2 separate regions of the Homo sapiens genome follow, and region 2 is linked to region 1. The links come from fine-mapping of genetic effects on gene expression. Tissue or cell type: whole blood. Region 1 holds a variant in brackets; the other region holds the start of a gene. All regions are shown on one strand. Distances are between the middles of the regions.

Evidence for each region. PIP is the estimated chance that this variant, and not a neighbour inherited with it, causes the effect.
Region 2: GAS5 starts here. The variant in region 1 is fine-mapped to the expression of GAS5 in whole blood (TOPMed, PIP above 0.99).

The regions. Positions count from the first base shown.
Region 1 is chr1:173,758,504-173,761,185 of GRCh38, forward strand. The region is part of intron 7 of KLHL20 (kelch like family member 20); the gene reads left to right. Among named protein-coding and RNA genes, the nearest start is that of KLHL20, 45 kb to the left of the region's middle. RefSeq lists an enhancer at 431-931. The variant G/A (reference allele first, on the strand shown) is at 1,219.
Region 2 is chr1:173,866,896-173,869,577 of GRCh38, forward strand. It overlaps GAS5 (growth arrest specific 5), which reads right to left and starts at 1,094. Exons shown (of 12, transcript NR_002578.4): 1 at 1,065-1,094; 2 at 96-148. ZBTB37 (zinc finger and BTB domain containing 37) reads left to right here and starts at 1,485. Exons shown (of 5, transcript NM_001122770.3): 1 at 1,485-1,510; 2 at 2,030-2,225. It overlaps SNORD74 (small nucleolar RNA, C/D box 74), which reads right to left and starts at 850; the gene lies at 779-850. SNORD75 (small nucleolar RNA, C/D box 75) reads right to left here and starts at 43; the gene lies at 1-43. RefSeq lists a silencer at 1,520-1,929 and an enhancer at 1,564-2,682.

The DNA.
Region 1 (2,682 bases):
GCGGACTGCTCCTGCAGCACCCGGGAGAAACCCCAAATATTGGGAGTGCCCCAACTGCAGAAATGGGAAAGGGAGACCCTCCTCTCCCAAACACACACCCCCACTGGAGAAGCTGAAGGTCTGTTTGCAGGAGAAGTTTCCAACTTTACCTGGAGCTGAGTCAAGTTAGAGAGGCAAGCGAAATAACAGGGGTAGAGGAAGCAGCAGAAAGGCCCTGGGAGTTTGCTGGGTCCCCAAGCAGGCCATTCCTGCCTGGCACCACAGGGATCCATTGGGAGGGTGGCCAGAGGAGCAGGGGATAAAACTCCCCAGGGAGAAGGAATTCTCTAGCTGAACTTTGTAACAATTTGAACAGGGTGAGAAGCCTCCTGACCAGAACTCAAGGTAGGGTGCAAATCCTGCATGCAGACTTCACCGGCAGGGGGAAAACTAAAGCCCTTTTCTCTTGCAGCTGGGAGGCGGATAGCCTGGGGCAAGCCTGCTGCCCGCCTGTGGCCTGGAAACAGACTCAGAGTTGTGAGAGGGGCACGGTGGGAGTGAGACCATGGGAGTGAGACCAGCCCTTCAGTTTGTGTGGGAGCTGAGTGAGGCCTGTGACTGCCGGCTTTCCCCCACTTTACTGACAACCTGCATGACTCAGCAGAGGCAGTCATAATCTTCCTAGGTACACAACTCAAGTGACCTAGGAATCTCTTCCCCCATCCCCAACAGCAGTCGCAACAAGACCCGCCCAAGGAGAGTCTGAGCTCAGACATGCCTAATCCTGCCCCCACCTGATGGTCCTTCCCTGTCCACCCTGGTAGTGGAAGACAAAGGGCATATAATCTTGGGAGTTCTAGGACCCCACCTACCACCAGTCTCTCTCCACACTACTACAGCTGATGTTTTCTGGAAAGCACCACCTCCTGGCAGGAGGCCAACCAACACAAAAATAGGGTATTAAACCACCAAAACTAAGGATCCTCACGGAGTCCATTGCACCCTCCACCAGAACAGGTGCTGGTATCCACAGCTGAGAGACCCATAGATGGTTCACATCACAGGACTCTGTGCAGACATCCCCTACTACCAGCCCAGAGCTGAGTAGACTTGCTGGGTGGCTAGACCCAGAAGAGAGACAGCAATCACTGCAATTTGGTTCACAGGAAGCCACATCCATAGGAAAAGAGAGAGAATACTACATCAAGGGAACACTTCGTGGAACAAAAGAATCTGAAC[G/A]ATAGCCTTCATCCCTAGACCTTCCCTCTGACAGAGCCTACCCCAATGAGAAGGAACCAGAAAACCAACCCTGGTAACATGATAAAACAAGGCTCTTCAACACCCCCAAAAAATCATACTAATTCACCAGCAATGGATCCAAACCAAGAAGATTCCCTGATTTACCTGAAAAAGAATTCAGGAGGTTAGTTATTAAGCTAATCAGGGAGGGACCAGAGAAAGGCAAAGCCCAAGGCAAGGAAATCCAAAAATGATACAAGAAGTGAAGGGAGAAACACTCAAGAAAATAGATAGCTTAATGAAAAAACAAAAATTCAGGAAACTTTGGACACACTTTTAGAAATGCAAAATGCTCTAGAAAGTCTCAGTAATAGATATGAACAAGTAGAAGAAAGAAATTCAGAGCTCAAAGACAAGGTCTTTGAATTAACCCAATCCAACAAAGACAAAGAAAAAAGAATAAGAAAATATGAACAAGCCTCCAAAAAGTCTGGGATTATGTTAAACAACCAAACCTGAGAATAATCGGTATATCCGAGGAAGAAGAGAATTCTAAAAGCCTGGAAAACATACTCGGGAGAGTAATCAAGGAAAATATCCCCAGCCTTGTGAGAGACCTAAACATCCAAATACAGGAAGCACAAAGAACACCTGTGAAATTCATCACAAAAAGATCTTTCCCTAGGCACGTTGTCATCAGGTTATCCAAACTCAAGATGAAGGAAAGAATCAAGAGCCATGAGACAGAAGCACAGGGTAACTTATAAAGGAAAACCTACCATATTAACAGCAGACTTCTCAGCAGAAACCCTATAAGCTAGAAGGAATTGGGGACCTATCTTCAGCCTCCTCAAACAAAACAATTATCAGCCAAGAATTTCGTATCCAGTGAAACTAAGCATCGTATGTGAACGAAAGATAAGCCGTTTTCAGACAAAGAAATGCTGAGATAATTCGCCATTACCAAATCACCACTACAAGAACTTCTAAAAGGAGCTGTAAATCTTGAAAGAAATCCTGGAAACACATCAAAACAGAACCTCTTTAAAGCATAAATCACACAGTACCCATAATGCAAAAATACAAGTTAAAAAGCAAAAACACAAAACAAAACCAAAGTACATAGGCAAGAAAGAGCACTACGAAAGTAAAGTAACGGTACCTCACATTTCAATACTAACATTGAATGTAAATGACCTAAATGCTCCACTTAAAAGGTACAGAACCGCAGAATGGATAAGAACTCACCAACCATCTGCTGCCTTTGGGAGACTCACCTAACACATAAGGACTCACATAAACTTAAAGCAGTGGAAAAAGGCATTTAATGCAAATGGACACCAAAAGCGAGCAGGGGTAGCTCTTCTTATATCAGACAAAACAAACTTTAAAGCAACAGTGGTTAAAAGAGACAAAGAGGGACAGTATATAATGGTAAAAGGCTTTGTCCGACAGAAAAATATC
Region 2 (2,682 bases), 110 kb after region 1:
TCAGAAATCCCTTCTGTCCACTACTCTTAAAGCATCACAGGCTGAGACCACCTCTTAGATTTCATTCTTCCCACCATACTTTCCCCAATTCTTACCTGTCCATAAGGTGCTATCCAGAGCCACACTGCATCTGCACCCAGCACCATACCTAAAGAGATCAGGTACAGATTTTAATTCATTGTTCCACGGTTCTTTTTTTTAAAGAGTGTTCTTTAAAAAAACGGTTCGTCTTTTTAAACCAATGATGCAGGTAACATACCATTCATTATCTAGCGACAGGTAAAGGATACACTTAATGTTACAAAGAAGCACTGCACCCGCAGTTAAGAACCACCGATGGCGGCCGGGCGCGGTGGCTCACGGCTTGTAATCCCAGTATGTTGGGGGACCACGGCTGGTGGATCACCTGAGGTCAGGAGTTCAAGACCAGTCTCGCCAACATGGTGAAACCCCGTCTCTACTAAAAATATAAAAGCCTAGCATGGTGGCGCGCGCCTGTAGTCCCAGTTACTTGGGAGGCTGAGGCAGAACTGCTTAACTCGGGACGCGGAGGTTGCCATTAACCGATGTCGAGCCACTGCATTCCAGCCTGGGTGACAGAACGAGGCTCGGTCTCAAAAAAGAAAAAAGAAACACTAATGGAAATATTGGTGACACTGCGGAATGCAGGCACTTAAGCACGTGGACTACCACCGACAGCCTTTCATGAGAGCGGACGGCTGATGGAGGCTCGGGTCACGGCCCTTAACAATAGCTTACTCGGGTGACTCGGCATGTGCCACCATCAGAGCGGTTGGCATTCATCATTACTCTCAGATGTCCCTACCAACACAGGCTTCATCAGAGGCAGGGCACGAGAGCCGAGGCTTCTCCGCAGTTCTACTCTAACATAGTCGCAGCTTAGGTCACGCATGCACCATATGTGCAATCCCCCACCATCCTCAACTTGTAGGCCCTGCAAAGGCGCGCGACTGGCTTAGAAGTCCCAGTCAATTCAGGGTGACCTTAGCAGACAAAGGCTGGAGCGCCCCAAAACCCGCAACATTCGCAAAGATAAAACATACCTCACAGGAGTCGACTCCTACCTCGAAAAGACAGTATGGTGCCTGGGCTCCTGTATATAAGAGTTCTTTTGATGACGTCACGACGCACGCTCCCGGCAGCGTCCGCTTCGGCTCCTCCCCCTAACCTCCCTCAATCTTCCTCTCATCCAGTATCACCTTCTTCCCACCCCTTAAGTCCGCCCCTTTTCCCCGCCCTTCCTCGCCATTGTGGGCAGAGACATGACCGTCCACGTGATGCCGTGCTCCCGCCCTCCTCCCGACTGAGGAGGAAGAGCAGAGAGGGGAGGGGGCGCGAGGCAAGGAAAGCTCTGGGGATGGGGGAAGGGGGGGCGGTGTAAGGCTGAGTGATTTCCTTCCGGCACGTCGCCCGCTCCGTGGGAGGGGGTGGGGGATTTCACTTCCGGGACGGTGTTCCGGCCCATTCCGGCCCATTTCCACCCCCGGAGGTAGGTGCTGCTCCTTGACTGGACTCGGGCCCCACACCCCAGTGCCACTTCCCTGCACCGGGGTCACCTCGCCCGCCCTCCGCCGCAGCGCGCTCCTGGGGCGCTCAGCTACTTTCCTTCACCCCGCCTCCAGGCACCGGGCGACCTTCCACCCCCTTGGCCCCCGGCCGGGCTGATCTGCCGGACCCGCCCCCTCGCGGGGCCCCTCCCTCAGGACCCCGGGAAGGGCGGCCCCCTCCCCCACCGCAGCCGGGACACACCCAGATACGCACACCCACCTCCTGGCAGCTCCCCGCCCGCCGCCGCCTGGAGCCGGTCCCTGGGCGCCGCCCCCTTCCTAGTTCTCACCTGAGCGCTGGCTCCCCCGCCCGACGCCTTGTCCCCATCTTCTCCGAAGTTCCTCAGTGACATTTTGCCCTTTAGCCAGTTCCCCTCTCCCCAGGCTTCCTAACGCAGAAGAAAGCTGCTCAAGTGCTGGAGTGGCCAACCCCATGCCGTTCCCAATTCTCCCTTTTACAGCTCTCACCCCTCCAGTGCCGACGGTAGCGAAAGACTTTCCTCCAGGGGCTTCCTCACTGGGGAATTGCCGGAAAGAGCAAACAAAAAAGGCGCTGGTGTAGGCTCCAAAATAAACACATCTGAATTCATGATGGCATCGACAGAGGCTCTTATTGGATTAAAAGTTTCAAAACAAACAATAACGCTTTGGAAAAAGGTCAGATTGGCTAAAGTTGATTGTTGAAAACAGTGTATACACTTCCCTATTTAATAAGTGTGTTGTTAATGCGGGGCAGTACTGTGAGCTTGGCAGAGTAAGTTCCTGAAGTTTCAGGTGTGGTGTAACTATGTAATATATAGATAAGTGAACGCACATTGGGCTTAAGTAAATGTCTTCCTGTTCGGATTTATACAAACTATTTTCAGTAGTTGAAACTGTACTTTCAACTATCTTGTATACAGCTTCAGGTTTAGTGTTTCAGCCATTTTTTAAAAATATTTTAATGGAAAAATGTTGGCATACTTGGTAAATGCTGTATTTTTTCATCGGATCTGGAGAACTAAGTTTCAGGATGGAAGTATTCATCACCACCTCGGAATTGCCAACTTCGAATTTGGCAGATTTACCCAGCTTTCCTAATTTTGACAACTGAACTTCACATTCTCTGCATCTT